Linked DNA regions of Homo sapiens: region 2 is linked to region 1. The links come from fine-mapping of genetic effects on gene expression. Tissue or cell type: whole blood. Region 1 holds a variant in brackets; the other region holds the start of a gene. All regions are shown on one strand. Distances are from middle to middle.

The links. PIP is the estimated chance that this variant, and not a neighbour inherited with it, causes the effect.
Region 2: TET3 starts here. The variant in region 1 is fine-mapped to the expression of TET3 in whole blood (TOPMed, PIP 0.96).

Annotation. Positions count from the first base shown.
Region 1 is chr2:73,825,165-73,833,255 of GRCh38, reverse strand. STAMBP (STAM binding protein) reads right to left here and starts at 4,295. Exons shown (of 10, transcript NM_213622.4): 1 at 3,746-4,295; 2 at 2,197-2,411. The coding sequence starts at 2,399. It overlaps LOC105374807 (a long non-coding RNA gene), which reads left to right and starts at 2,858. Exons shown (of 3, transcript XR_940246.3): 1 at 2,858-2,940; 2 at 4,352-4,499. RefSeq lists enhancers at 1-83, 1,599-2,798 and a silencer at 4,306-4,524. The variant G/A (reference allele first, on the strand shown) is at 3,842.
Region 2 is chr2:73,980,043-73,988,130 of GRCh38, reverse strand. TET3 (tet methylcytosine dioxygenase 3) reads right to left here and starts at 3,221. Exons shown (of 12, transcript NM_001287491.2): 1 at 2,974-3,221; 2 at 1,425-2,151. The coding sequence starts at 1,727. DGUOK-AS1 (DGUOK antisense RNA 1) reads left to right here and starts at 6,692. Exons shown (of 2, transcript NR_104030.1): 1 at 6,692-6,996. RefSeq lists enhancers at 1,799-2,028, 3,922-4,845 and silencers at 2,509-2,678, 3,102-3,300, 3,059-3,748.

The DNA of each region.
Region 1 (8,091 bases):
AACATAAGAGTTAGGTTACAAGTGTAACAAATAGCTGAGTCTCAGCCAATCATAGCAGCTGAAACCTCCAGCCAATTGGAGGCTAAAGCCTGCCAAAACATGACCAAATAAGGCAAACACATAACTGTAGCCAATCAGGCTATTTCTGTATCTCATTTCCTTTTCTCTGACTATAAATATAGCCTGCACAACCTCCACTATGGGGTGGAACATTCTGCACCACTTTTGGTCCTGAGTGTTCCCTGAACCTTTTTCTACTGGATTAAACTCTGTTAAATTTAACTTGTCTAAGGTTTTCTCCTCTTAACACAGGCAACACTTCTAAATAAAAAAGACAATAGCAGTCCCATTTCTCCACTCTACAATTACAATATGAATCCTAGACAGTCCATTCTTCCGCATACTTTCCTTTGGAGCACTGGTTCTCAGAGGTGATTCTGCCCCTGGGAGAACATCAGATAATGTCTGGTGACATTTTTGGTTGTCACACTGCGGGGAGGGGGGATACTGGCATCTGGTGAGCAGAAACCAGGGATGCTGCTAAACATTCTGTGACACACAGGACAGCTCCCACCACAAATAATGATTCAGTCCAAAAGGTCAATAGGGCCAAAGTTGAAAAGCCCTGCTTTAGAGGAGTATGTGATCAAAAACTTAATGTGATAAAACTGGTATGTGTATATCATCTCTTGGAAGATATCTAAGAAACTACTAAGAGTGGTTGTCTCTGGGGAGAAGCACTGAGGGTTTGGGGGGAAAAGAGGAGTGGGTGGGGAGACTTTTTTTTTTTTTTTTGAAACAGTCTCGCTTTGCCACCTAGTCTGGAGTCCTGGAGTGCAGTGGCACGATCTCGGCTCACTACAACCTCTGCCTCCTGGTTTCAAGCGATTCTCCTGCCTTAGCCTCCCAAGTAGCTGGGATTACAGGCACACGCCACCATGCCCGACTAATTTTTGTATTTTTAGTAGAGATGGGGTTTTGCCATGTTGGCCAAGCTGGTCTTGAACTCTTGACCTCAGGTGATCCGCCTGCCCTGGCCTCCCAAAGTGCTGGGATTACAGGCGAGAGCCACTGCGCCTGGCCAAGACTTACTTTTTAACTATAGTTATTCTTTTGTGCCTCTGAATTGTGCACCATATATATGTGTATATATATATATATATATATATATGTTACCTACTCAAAAATCAGTAGTAAAATAAATAACAAAAAAATAGCCAGTGTGGCTCATGACTATGATCTCAAAAGACTACCTCTGACTCTAGAACATTACTAAATGGAAAACAAGAAGAACAGGACCTATGTTGTAGAACAAATCCTGAATTAGGAGTCAGAAAACCAAGGTTTTGTCACTTCAAACATGAGCATCCACCAAACACTGAGTTTGTTTCCTCATATGTAGAATGTAGGGTAGTGTACCCTATTCCATGCACACAGAACTGTGAAGATCAAATGAAATTATGCAGGTGAAACACACTATGAGCTACTCAGAACCAAATACATTATAATTATTTTTTAAAAAGTCCTGATATTGTGAAAGAACAAGATTAGAAATGATAAATAAGACCTTTAACATTATTTCCTTTCTAAATTATGTATCATTGTCAATGGAGTTTTAGAAGTTGTTTGCTGTTAATAGTACTGAAATCTTCTACTTATGCTGCCTACCCTAAGATGATAAATAACTTAAGGGAAAGGTCTTATTATGATGAGCCACACAAACTGTAGGCAGTTACTAATTATTTGATGATTTGCATGATTATGATAAAGGTTAAGAGGAAAAAATTTTTTCCTGTATCACTAAATTTGCTACAAAATAAGTACAAGTGAGGAATTTTGGCTCTGCTAGACCCCAACAATAATCCTATGATTGGCTGCTTTAGTAGAAAGAGAACAGTAAAAGCATTCATCAGAACATAATATGTCTAGTTTAACCACCAACTCTTTTGTCTAACAGCTGGGCTATGTGGGCATAGGCCAAAGAACTAAATCTCTTACTCATAAATTACTGAGTCATGAAAATAACACCTTCAGCACTCATGTCTTTGAACGGCAAGGACAGCCAATATGTAGGAGTTGCCAGCAAAAATGATTAATGTTGATGATATTGTGAAGTTCTGTGGTTTTAGCAATTCTGAGCCAAATAGGCGAGGCACCAGTCACCAGAAAGGAAAAAGGAAACTGTAGGTGTCTTACGTGATATACTTGTTATAGAGGATGAAGGCATGTTCAATGTTGCCTTCCTCAGAGTAAATGGATGCCATTCGGATAATCTCAACTCCAGAGCGGAAGTACCGACGGGGTGGAATGTCTTCATTCACCTCTACCGCACTACCCAGCTGGGAGAGAGCCCTCACCCGGTCTTCGGGCGGGAGGCTCACATCTCCATGGTCAGACATCAGGACCAAGTTCTGAGACAGAAAAAACAGATGGCATCAATACCGTTGCCCTCATCATCCCAGCAGTTTTACAGTTTATCTCACAGACCTCTACCTTAAGAAGAAAATATAAGAGAAACATACCAAATGCTGTGGCTCCTATTAAATAAGGACTTTCCTACAAGAAGGCTGAGACCCTCAAGGAAGCCCAAATCACAACGATGAGAGTACTGGCAGACTAGAAAACATACAACCCCTGTACCATAATTAGGTGGTATAAGGAGTAGAACCACAGTGGACCAACCAAAGGTTCAGTTCAAGTTAATCAAATCCTTTGCCATTAGGGGGCTCCGCCCACAGCACTGTAAAAGTGGGAACAGCATCTTTTATTTTCTATTATTTCTCCTTCCAGATACCCACATACCTCCACCCCAGTACCTGGCAGAGTGCACTCAGTGAACTTTCTTGAGGATTGTTAACTAACTTCAAGGTTGACCATTTTTACTTAATCTGAGAGTAACTGACATTTTCTGTGGTATCCTTTTTCATATTTGAGCACAAGGTGAGTTAGGGGAACTGGTCTGGGAATTAATGCTCATAATTGTAACTCTGCTCACTAAACCACTATAGTCAATCTATAAAATCATTCATTCATCATTATCATGGCAAGAGACTTAAATCTTGAAAACAACCATTTACTCATCTTCATAGACTAAACACTGAATAACAAAAAGGCACGATGGTAACTTGCATTGCAAAAACCCCTGGTGTCCCAAAACTCCAGTAATTCTAGTCTTTCTAGATATAGTTGCTGTTAGAATCAGATTCCAAATTCCAACCAGATATCACCACTATCATCTCCAAAATAAAACTGGGCATTTGACACACATTGCATTACAGCAAACCCTAATCAGTATGCTCTAGAATACACAAACTACAGTAGAATAAATCTTGGAATTCAAGGCCCTGTGGCAACTGGCCCTCCCCAACAGAGATCTTTTGCTTCAGTCAGGATTCCAATCCGCCCAGGCATCCTCACATTTCAGTTTCATTTATCTATCCAGTTTTTCTTTTCTACTACAACTCTTCCCTCAGGGGTAGTCTTCTCTCAGCCAATTCCATCTTTAGGTCTCTTCAATATTCGGGTCACAATTCCTCCACAAACCTTCCCCTCTAAAACACCCTCACTAATAGCACAAAAGCCGTGAGGACTACTAGGGATGCAGAGATAGTCCATCTCTCACGAGGCCTCCTTAGGGACTCAGAAAGCCGCAAGCATATCTAAAACCTCCCCAAGTAATTAGTAAACCTAGTCCACGGCCCATGAAAGTTAACTGAAACAGAGGATGCTTGTTGCATCTCAGTACCTCTTGGGAGAGGTTCTTGTGGGTTAAGAAAGGAACCACCTCCCAAGGCCAGGAAGCGGCGCCGGTTACCACCTGGTTGAGCAATTCCAAAAAGGG[G/A]ATGCAGCATCTGCAAATGAGGGGGAAAGGCGGCGTAAAGGACCGAGGGGGAAATACGAGGAGGAGAAAGGAAGTAGCAGGAATGAGCGGAGGGGGCGTATACAGTAGGGAGGGCTCTATCGACAACTGCTTGAGGAACCCTTCTTGAAGGCACTCAAGACGAACTTGCCAACCCCAGGCACAATCATCCAGGGTTTTCGGGATCTTTCAAATGCAGTAGGCGGGGAACCGCTGGGCCTGGCTGGTCAGGCGCCAGCCCGCGGAGACAGAAGCCGTCGGGTGCCTCGAGCGAGGCAGGCCGGGCAGGGGACTCGGGGAGAGTAGGCTGCAGGCCCCACACTCACGGCGGCCGATCCCCTTCAAAGTCCAACCACGCTCGGAGGCCCTGCCCCACCACGTTCCCGGGACCCTTCCCCACCTTTCCCCGCGGATGACACCCGGAGGTTCCGGAAACGTCACATCCGGCGCCCGCTCCGCCCACTCCCGTTCGTCTGTCTATTACATTCCCAGTGATTTAGGACTTGGAACGGAGAGCTAGTAGGTGGGGCTAGAATCGGCACCTGCGGAAAATCCGACCAATGAGGAGCGAACGACACAGCGGCCATCTTGGTAAAGGAAAAGGAACAAGGAAGAAAGTGGAACCAATTAGCAAGCTAAGGTTTGCTTTTAAAATTATTTTGATTTGGGGTAGTCCCTCATCACACTCACAATACTCCTGCATTTAAGGAGGGATTGCTGATCCCAGCACAACTGCAGACTTAGCTAAACTAACCAGGATTTATAAATTGGGGGACAGAAAGTCTTTCGAATGTATTTTTTAGCTTGTATTACATTCTACACAAAAATTGGTAGTCTTAGATATTAGGCAATATCTAAGACTAATTTTATTGCTTAGAAAAGAACATAAGTCTAACTTTTTTTTTTTTTAAGACAGGGTCTTGCGGTGTCACCCAGGCTGTCACAGGAGTGCAGTGGTGTGATCATAGCTCACTGTGGTCTCCAACTTCAGGGCTCAAGCGATCTTCTTGCCTCTGCCTCCCAAAGTACTGGGATTACTGGCGTGTGCCACCGCACCCAGATGAGACTAACGTTTTAATGTCAAAAAACCTATAAAATATTTGGAAAAAAAGCGTTTAATCTCTAAGAGCCGCTATGCAAAAGCAGTGGAGACACAAAAATCTGTATGACACTGTTCCTGCCCTGAGACCGGGACAAGGTGGTTTTATGCATCAAATACAGAATGGCACGTTCTGCATGTAGATGTGTGTCTGTACGAATCCATATACATCCTCTTTACAAAAAGGTCCTACAAGCTTGCTAATCATTCTGTCTCAGAAGACTTTGTGAAACATTAGGCTTTGGTTTAAAAGTCTAAGTCTCTGGGGGACACTTTCCCAAAATTTGGGAGCCTCCCTGTGAGTTTGTTAGTGTGATGGCATGACCTATTCTTCAAGGTCTAGCTTAAATCCCTAATTCAGGTGTTGCCTCCTCCACCTAGCCAGCCTCCAGATCTCTCATTTCTCCCAACCTCCGTTGTGTATATTTCTGTTGGAGTTACCTGAAGTGATTTTGTGTAGTCATCAACTTTTCAGACTTAGGGTTGAAAGTACTTGCTTGCATCATATCACCTCCCCTTCTGCCCCCAGCAAGCATTAATGTGCATGGGTCTACTATCAACTCTCATGGATCTACTGCAGATAAATCTGGGAAGATAATTGTATAGGGCACTCTACTGTGTCTTCAAAACTCTCTCTACTGACTCTCTTCAGAATGTAAACATGATGGGTTGGGCCTAAAGAAATTGATGCACTGGAGATGCTGGTCATTGGGTGGGCATTATAGTGCAGATGGGGTCCTGGCAGGAGGCAACACAGGTCAAAATCTGATCCATTCAACCTCTCACTCAGTAAATGTTTACTGAGTGTCTACTATGTGCCAGGTTCTGTTCTAGGTGTTAGGGATACATCAGCAAACAAACCCAGCAGGTGGATACTCTAATGGTGGAAGCACAGGTAGAAGTACAGCTGGTGGGGTAGGGAGGGGCATCTGCTCCCATTCAGCACAATCTCTAAAGTAGTTCTTTTTTTTATAATGTTTAGCTTAACAAGTAAAGAAAATTTACAAACATCCTAGATTTTAAGATTATGATGAGAAGACTTTAAGAAGCTATAACTGAGACACACATATAAGGGGTGTGCATAGTCGTAAACATAGCTAGCGCCACATAGAGGCTGTTCCTGATATTAGAAAGTTAATATGCCCAGTTGCTAGCAGTTCTTAAGGTAATAGCTAAGTGAATATAGGAAGCAGGATCTAGTCTTTTTAGGGAGAGAATTTGTAAATGTTGACCAGAGTTTTTGATATCTGGGGCAAAGTTCAATACTCAGCTTTCTAGGGACCTGAAATAAGAAAATCTTGGCCAAGGTAAAAATTTTACATTCCTCATTTCTTGTTTAACTGGAAAAGTTTAAAAACTAAACAATTTTGTATACACAATCAGGAAATCAAAGCTATAAAAGATTCTTGGCATAACTGATGAGAATATCCTACCTACCCCTGCCCTAAAGATTGGAGGCTAAGCGTGGAAGGTATTCCTTCAGCAAATAGGCTTCAGCAGTTCACCTGGCAGACTAGACCAGGTTAGGAATTGAGATGCTCTTTCCTTCCGGTGCTCACTCCCAGCCATGAACACTTTTCCTGAATATAGCAGCCTCCATCTGGCCGCTTGCATATGCCAACGTCAGGTCTCCTGCACTCCTGCATGCTCATTCCTACTTGCTCATTTTTGGGCAGCAGCAAAAGATGCCTAGAAGGTGAAGTTCTTAATCTGAAATGTAACATCGGGGTTTAGAAAACACAGGCCTGGACCAGGTGCGCTGGCTCACGCCTGTAATCCCAGCACTTTGGAAGGCTGAGACAGGAGGATCGCTTGAGCCCAGGAGTTCGAGGATATAGTGAGCTATGATTACACCACTGCTCTCCAGCCTGGGCAACAGAGTGAGACCTCTAAAAAAACAAAACAAAACAAAACAAACAAAAAACCCAGGAGGATCACTTGAGCCCAGGAGTTTAAGGCTGTGGTGTGCTATGATCTCACCTGTGAATAGCCACTGCATTCCAGCCTGGGCAACATAGTGAGACTCCTATTGCTAAAAAGCAAAAAGAAGAAAAGGAAAAATACAGACCCAGCGGAGTTCGGGGGTCAGGGAGGGTAAAAACAAGGAAGACTCTAGGTGTATTTCACTTGCAAGGTTGGTACTCTTGTGTTAAGTGACATACCTAGAGGGACAATTGCATTAGTACAGGAAGGGCGTTCATTCTTACCTACTACAATGCATTCTTACAACAGCAGCTAATTTTTTTTTTTTTTGAGATGAAGTCTTGCTCTGTCACCCAGGCTGGAGTGCAGTGGCACAATCTCGGCTGCAACCTCCACCTCCCAGGTTCAAGCAATTCTCCCTGCCTCAACCTCCTGAGTAGCTGGGATTATAGGTGCTCGCCACCAAACTTGGCTAATTTTTGTATTTTTTAGTAGAGACAGGGTTTTGCCATGTTGGCCACGCTGGTCTTGAACTCCTGACCTCAAGTGATCCACCCACCTCAGCCTCCCAAAGTGCTGGGATTACAGGTGTGAGCCATCACGCCTGGCCACTAATGATCTTTTTAAAGCAAAAATCAGATTCCATCACTCCTCGGCTTAAAACTCTTCAGTGAATTCCCATGGCACTTGGAATAAACATCCACACTCCTTACTGGGGATTACAGAGTGACTCGGCCCCTGTTGCCTTTCTGACTTCATCTCCCAATCTCCTTGCTTAATACTCTCCACCGACACCATCCAAACATCTGCTTTTCCACTCAAGACCTTTGCATAGCTGACTCCTTTTCCTGGGATGCTTTTACCCTCATCTTCACTTGGCTGGCTCTGCCTCATCATTCATTTCTCAGTTTACATGTTACCTCCTCAAGGAGAACTTCTCTGACCACCCATTCTAAGGAGCCACCCAGTCATCCTTCATTAGTTGGTCTTATTTTAATTGTCTTGATAATCCTTACCACTGTCTGATATGATTTGGGTTGCTTATTGTCTTTCATTCCCCACTAGAATATAATTTCCAGAAAGTTAAGATCCTTTTCTGCCTTGCTCACAGCTCTATCCCCACTGCCTAGAATGGCTTGCGAAACCAGATGTGACACTCAATGAACATTGTTGAATGTTCAAATGTTGTTGAGATAAATATTGTCTCACT
Region 2 (8,088 bases), 150 kb before region 1:
GAAGTCTCCCAGGCTGGGGCTGGGGGCTGCATATGTGATCCAGATGTCTGCTTTAACCAGAAACAAGGGAAACAGGGCCCCGAGTCTGCAGTCCCTGGGTCAGGACATACAGCTTCCACAAGGCACGGACAAGACAAGGTGAGAAGGGGCAGAAATATCCAGCAACCCCATGTCCCTGTCCTCAACACTTGAATCTTTCTTCCTAGCCACGGGACCAGCCCCACCAGCTCGCTGTGAGGCTCTGCACTCAGCGGTCAGGGAAACCCAGAGCACGGGCTGCCAGCCCAACGCCAGCCACAGGGACCCGAGTCCTCAGAAGCAAGCAGCTCCCAGCCCAGCTGGAAGAGGCTTTGAAAGCCATCAAGTACAACTCTTCCACTTCCCCCAAGGAAAAGACAGGCCCAGAGAGGGGGCCCGAGTTGTCTGGGCCCTTGGACAAATGAATGGCAGAGCCAGGGGGAGCTCGAAGACAGCGCAGGCCTCCGTCTCTGTCCAGCGCCAGTTCTACTGCCTGGAGCGACCTCAGCGGCTACACCGCTCCTCCTAAGCTGCTCAACTTCGCTCAGCCCTACTTCTGCCAACTCTCTGCTGTCGCGGCTGTCACCAACCTCAAGCCGGCAGTCCGCCACTATAATGGGAGGGAAAGACGGCCAATGCAAGGTCATGGTCTCTCCCATTCCTTCCCACCCTGCCTGCTCTCACCCCAAATCTCCTTCCCTCCTCCACCCTACTACCCCAAATAAAGGGAGTACACCTCCCTGGGGTTGACAGTGTCTCAAAAGCATGTCATCCATTCATGCAATTAGTATCTGAGTGCCTACTACCTGCCAAGGAATTGTGCCAGGTCCCGAGAACACAGAAATAAAGTTTTTGACCGCAAGAAGAACTAAGATAGGGGAACCCAAAACATCAGTTCGTCACTAGATTCCCCAACAGTTTCAACTGGCTCTCTGGCCATCTGAGAAAAACGATGAAAGAAACATCCCACTCCATCAGGGCATCATAAAACCACCCTGTCAATCCAAAACTTTGTCTCCAAATCCATCAGCCTCCATCTCTTATCTTACACCCTCACTGACCAAGTCATCCAAGCATTAGCATGAGCTTGAAATACAACATCTGAGGCTTCAAGCAGCAGGACAAGAAACTTCTAGAGGTAAAGGTAGACATCACAGTCCCGCCTCAAATGCAAACATCAGAGATGAGGGTGCTAGCTCAGATCCCCCTTCTACCCAGTTACTCATACAAATTGTCAGCCCTGCAAAGGAGTCCAAACATGTCAGTTACACTCCTACTTAAAGTTGGACCAAGAGGATCAGAAATGAGAGAATGGACTCAACTGGACGAGCCTTGCTTGAACAAGACCCCCGTGATCACCGTGCCCTCGAGGAAGGAACAGGGTAGCCCAGCAAGGGCCGGCTTACCTCCTTGAGAAGCCCTACTTTTTTCTTCAGCACCTCACATTTTCGCAGTTTGCAGATCTGGTGCGTGCGGCGGTTGGTACAGCTAGTGCAAGCGCCACAGTTTTCCAGCCGCCGGCAGGGCTCACAAGTACCACACCGTTTCCGTTTCTTTCGACCATCTCCACCCCCTCGGAGTTGGGACTCACTCCCAGCCATGGAGAGCCCAGACCCCGGGAAGCTCCCTACCATCACCTGGCGCTGAGGGAAGTCATAAAGGCCTGGCAGGTCCGGCTGGACGGCCAGGGGCACCTGAAACTGGCTCATGATGCTGCCAGAGGTGGGGTCATAGGTGCTGGGGCAGAACCACAGTCGTTTCCTGCCACCTCCAAAGGCCACCAACAGGTCCTTCTCGCCTAGAACAGTCAAGAGTCTACAAGGGTGAAGGCAAGTGGCTTCAGTCTCGTGGATGGATGCCTCTTCTCAACCCCTCTTCACCTCCTCTGCAGCAGTCTGATCGGACTCCGTAGGGGGCCACTCTCCCACCTGCTGGGGCCCAGGATCTGGGGGAGGACACCAGCAGCAGCCCTCAGAAAAGGGATCATCTTGGCCCGGTGGGTTCTTCACCCTCACCCACCCTGGACCCAGGCATGAGTTGAGCAGGTAGGGGTGTGGTGGGGGCAGAGCTGAGTGAGCAGTTTCTCCTGGTATTTTTCCTCCAGGGTCTGGACGCTGGAGAAGGCAGTGCTGCCTGAAAAAGACAGAAAGGGGAAGCGCATCACTCGGGGCTCAGGGACAACTTTCACGTGTCACTTCTTCCTGTTTCTGGGAAGAGAAAATGGGGGAAGAGATGGGGCTTGCTCAATTGAGGTCCTGCCCAGAACCTCAGGCAGGACGCACCCAGCACCCGCTCCCTGTCTGAGGGAGGCGGCCTCGGGCCTGAGGGCTGCTGGGGGCCCTGGATTCAAGGGGGTGATCAAGGTGAGATTTCTAAGAAAGTTGCCCTCTTCCCCACCCCCACGGGCTGGTGAGAGTTTCACCAAAATTCCCCCACACGCCCTGGCTGGAGGCCGCCGGGCCCTCCCTAGGGAGCTGAGCTTTCAAAATAAAGTTTGCTGAGAGCCTCGCTCGGCGGGACTGCCCCGGCGCCCCCGGCACGGAAGCCGCCTGGAGGTGGGGGCGCGCCCTGGGCAGCCCGCGCCCGCCGCGCCCGCCGCCGGAGCGCAGCCCGCCAGCCCGACTGGGGAGGGCGGCCCGCGCCGCCGAGGGGCGCGGGGAGGGGGGCGCGCTCGAGCCGCGGGCCGGGCCGCGCGCGCGCCGCCGCTCGGGCTCCTTTGTTCTGGGGCCTCCGCCACTCCGCTCCGGCGGCTTCGCAGCCCCCGCCCCCGCCCCGCCACCCCCGCCCGGCTCAGCCGCACAGCGCCCCGCAGCACCCCAGTCCGGCCCCCCGCACCGGAGGAGCGGCCCCCCGCCGGATCCGGGCCGTCCCCTCCCCCTCCCCCGGGCCGGGCCCCCCGCGCCTCCCGCCGCCCCTCCCCCACTCCGGAGCCGGAAAGGCACCGACTGCACCGACCTGCCCGCCGCCTCCGGGGCGGAGCGCACAAAGGGGCAAAGTTTCCCGGCCCGCGCCGCCGCCGCCACCACCGTCGCGGCCGCCGCCGCCGCCGCCTGGGGCTCCCGCCTCCCGGAGCGCCCGGCCCGACCGAGCTCAGCGCGCGGAGCCCCCCGCCCGGGCCGAGGAGGGGACGGCGCAGGAGGAAGGAAGAGGCAGCGGCGGCCGCGGCGGCAGCAGCAGCAGCAATGAAGGCGTCCGCGGGACTCCCCGCCCCCCGCGCACCGCGGCACGTGCTCGCCCGGGGACTCCCCCGCCCGGGAGGGCGCACACGTGCGGCCCCGCCGAGCCCCGCCGGCCCGGCCGGGCCCCGGGCCGGGCGAGAGGGGGGTGGTTCCCGCGGAGGGGAGGGGTCGGGTGGGCGGCCTGCGAGCGGCTTGGGGCAGGCTCCGGCCCGGCCGCCGCTTCTCTGCACCTGCAGTGGCTCCCACCCACGCGGTCGGCCCTCCCGGGAGGCGGCCGCCCCCTTCGGGTTGGCCACCCTCGCCCTCCGGCGGGGCTGCAGCCGGGGCCGGCGAGGCGGGGTGGGGCACGCGGACCTTCCAGCCTAGGCCCTCGGCCGAGCCTCGCTCGGTGTCCCCACTTCCTGCCACTCCCTGCGGGCCAGATCTGTCCGGGACAGCCCCGGCGCCCCCGGGAGGCCTGAGCGCCGGGCCCGACTGACCCCCCTGTCCCAGCTGCCGCTGGCTCATTCCGAGGCAGGACAATGGGGGACATCGCGCGTTTGCGTACCGAGTCAGCCTGGCCGGCAAGAAGGGGTTGCTCGGGGGCAGAGGCTAAGGGCACCCTCGCAGGGGTCACGGCCGAATGCCCTGTCCAGGTGGACCCCACGGCCCTGCCATCACCAGCCTCCCCCGCGCCGCGCTCGATTCTTTCGCGTCGAAAACAAAGACTAATCCGATACCCCCGCCCTGCCTCCCAGAGGAGGGGGAACGGGCGCGTCGCGGAGGGTAACTGAGGAGGACAGCGTTCAGGAGGGCCTCGGACAGCCTCGAGGGGGCCGTGGGGCGACTAAGCCCTAAAACCCGGCGCAGACACTTTGAAGAGTCACCCTGGGCTACGTTCCAGGCAGGGGGTAAGGGGCAGGGCTCAGGAATATTTCCAAGTTGCCAAACTGCCCGTTCTCTCTGCTGCTTTTTTCCCTCACCTGTTGTGCAGGCCAAGTTGAAATTCCAGGTTAGATTAATTCAGCCCCACCCATCTGGCCTGACTGCCAGGCTGGTGCCTGCAACTGCCTTCCACCTACCTCGGTTGCAGGGGAGCAGGGTGGGTCTCTGACATACACGCGCACACACACACTCGGGCGAGTCCTGGCAGAAACAGCCACAGGACGGACTGGCCTGACCAGTTTGGGCGGTGCTCACGGAGCCAGGTACCTGGCAGGCGTCGCCGCCCGGCTGCAGCTAACAGCTTAGCCAGAACTGGAAAAAGAGCATTCGGCCGGCTATTTAGAAAGAAAGAAAAAAAAGTAACTGATCTGAAGTAGCGCTGTCCAGAAAGCCCTAGGCGGTAAAGCAGCCCGGGTTCTATCTGGAACTTCCCTCTGATTTTGACAGCCTGCTCCAGGGTCCAGGTTGTCAGCGAGGGAGTGGGTGGGGGTGAACATGGCTGCAATATCCACTTCCTACCATGGCCTTTGGGAGGACTGAAGAGTTTCTGTTCAGGGTAGTAAGACTAGAACCGAGACGAAAAACCAAGAGAGTGCAATTTTCAAACAGGGGAACAGGTTGCAGACTCGTAATTGTTTTTAATGTAATATATTTTTAATAAGCAACTTTATTAATAAAAAATGTGTATAAAGAAGACGTGGAGACTACAGATACTAGAGGGGAAAAATCACCAAATTACAACCATATTTAACCATTTGCTATATTTCCTTGTAGCCTTTCCTATTTGTGGATTTACTCACACTGATTATACAATTTGCCATCCTCTTTTAACTTAACATTGTACCATAGGCATTTCCCTGTTTGGTATACAGTTTTCAGAAAGTGTGACAGTGAGGTGAAGAAGATGGCTCAGGAGCCAGAGAACTCTGGCTTCCAAACCTGAATCTGCCACTTGGTAACAGTGTGACCTTGGACTAGGTACTCCATCTTCAAGGGAATCCAAGTAAAAGACTTAATATAGGGCTCAATGAATGACAACAACTAATATTGTTTAATCCATATGACAACCTTGTGAGGTAGGTACTATCATCAAACCCATTTTATGGATAAGAAAACAGATTAAATAACTTGCCCAGGATCACTCAGCTAGTAAGTTGTGGACTTTCAGAGGAGCCCAGCAGCCATCCTCTTGTATTCTGTCTGGGTAAATGGCACCAGCAAGTTACTGTGTCATTTACTCTTTGCCAGCAATCTATGAGAGGGTCATTTCATAAAGCCCTCTCGTTTAGGTAACTGGGTGAATGCTGGTGCCATTCACTGTGACAAAATGCAGAAGGAAGGATGCCTGGGGATGGAGACATTCGTGTGAAAGTGAGTGTGCAACTGAGGGGGTGAGGCCTGGGTTTGAGATTTGGGCCCCATCAGTGAGCAGACAGCGAGGCCTCAGTTGTGGAGGAGCTCATCCAGGGTGGATATGGAGTGTGAGAGGGAAAGGCTGCCAGGACAGAGCCCCAGGGAATACCAGCCCATGAGGGACAGGAGCTGAGAAGGCGCCGCCAGAGAGGTTGGAGGGAACCCAGCCAGGCTAGAGAGCTGCCTGTCATATCTTCCCGGCCTCTGGAACCTTACACTTCGGCAGTCCTGTTGCTCATTCCTTCTGCCTGGGGAAAAACCCTTCCCACCCCACCCCTTCTCAGCTACCCCTTGTACCTGCCAAATTCCCACTCATCCTGCAAGTCATAAGTGCCAGTTCCATGAAACCTCCAGCTGCTCAGATGATTCCAGAGCCCCACCCACTCTCCCTCCACAGAAGTTTGACTCTCCCTGCCTAGGAACAGTTATCTCATCGGCGCTGGGCACTGGAATGGTTTGCATGTTTCTTTCCCAGTTACTACAAACTCCTGGAAGGGTAGCACGCTGTCTTTCACCTCATAACCCTAGACCTAGCAACCAACCACTGTGTTGAATGAAGAGACGAGGTGAGTAGACCCTAATGAATGACAGACCCCAGTAACACTGAAGACCCATAGGCTTCTTTCCTGCTTTCTTTACGACTTGCACAAACTGGTCAGGGGCGCCCAAGATAAAACAGCCTAAACTCCTCAGGTCCTGCCTTCTGGTTCTCCAGCCTCCTGGGCTGCTGCGGCTATTCCCATTCACATTGCGCTCAGGGCAGGAGAGCAGCGGGGGTGGGCGTAGGGATAGGGCGAGCCCTTCCTGGGGCTGCATTAGCCTAGACGCAGTGGTTCCGCCAAGAGAGCCCCGGCACCAGCAGCATCACCATCTCCTGGGAACTGGCTAGAAATGCAAGCTCTCGGCCCCATCCTAACCCCACTGAATCAGAAACCCTGGGGGCGGGCCCAGCAATCTGTTTTAATTAGTCCGTCAGGTGAAGTCAAGTTAGAGCAGCACTGGACTACAGCAAGCGGGGGAGAAGGAAGTTCAGCACCCAGGTGGAGACTGCGATTAGGCCCCCAAGGCGCTTAGAGCAGACAGAGGGAGAGAGGCTCCTTTTAGGAGCGGGTTTGGCGGGCGCCACCCCAAGCGGCCAAGGGCGGAGCCTCTTTTAGGCGACTGCTCCCGCGAGGTCAGAGCCGGGCTGTGCCGCTGCCCCCGGGACTAGAAAGGGAAATCTCCTTGCTAGAGGAGGAAGCCCTAAGAACTCAAGGGAGATAGGGGTGGCAGGGGCATTTCCCTGGATGCCTGGAGCATGGAGGGTGCGAAATAAGGAGGCTTTCCTACCCCATTGATGAGCTGAAGTTGATTCCGCACGGGGGAGGAAAGGGACAGGAAGCATAATTGGATGTGCAAGCCTGTGGTTCTTCAGGAAGTTAACACGTGGAACTAACACTGTTGGATGCTGCTGAACTCTCAGGTGATTGATGTGACTAACCTCCTCAGGTACTTGACCTCTCTCCTCTTCAGCTAATGAGTAATTTGTCCTTATTTAAGAATGAGATTTGCGTATGGGGACCTTTTGCAGAAATGTAAATACATCCCGATATCCATACCTGGGCTTGGTTTTAAAGACTGAAGGTATTGGGAGGTTTATTTGATTTTGGATGTATTACTTCTTTGGTCATGTATTGGCTAAAAATATTATCAACTAATATTTGCATAGATCTTTCCCTTTTCAAAGCACTTCCACACACATTATCCTTCTGTCTGCACAGAGTGGCAAATACAACAAATGTGCAAATGTTAACTTTCCTTATCTATGACATAGTTTTTATTATCATCACCATTTTACAGATAAGAGAACTGGCGCTCAGTGAGGTAATTTGTCCAAGGTCATTCACTACTACATGTCAGAATCCAGGACCTACAATCCAGGACCTCTGAAATTAGCCCACGAATGCTAGAGCTGATACCAGGCAGAAGCTGGCATTTTGCTCTCAGGGAAAGGGAGGTTCATTAGTGGGTTGCTTGTGGACCTGCATTGGTGAGTGTGACACGTGTAGGATATCTATGCTATGCGTTTTTGGGTTTTTTGTTTTGTTTTGGTTTTGGGTTTTGGTTTTTTTTTTTTCTTTGAGATGGAGTCTCACTCTTGTCACCCAGGCTGAAGTGCAGTGGCGCGATCTGGGCTCACTGTAACCTCTGCTGCCCAGGTTCAAATGATTCTCCTGCCTCAGACTCTCGAGTAGCTGGGATTACAGGCACCTGCCACCGCGCCCAGCTAATTTTTGTAGTTTTAGTAGAGACTGGTCTTGAACTCCTGACCTCATGATCCACCCACCTCGACCTCCCAAACTGCTGGGATTACATGAGTGAGCCACCGCGCCCGGCTACTACGTTTTTCAATAGCCCCGCAAATGTCCTCATGTTTTATAACTAGTTTTGTGACTGCATTTTGAATTTTTTGAATCAAATAGGCTTCATTACTTGCAAGGAGAATGCAAGGGTACCCATCATAATGGAAGGAATACCCAACAGGGATAAAGGCCTTGGTGCCCCTGAGCCTTGG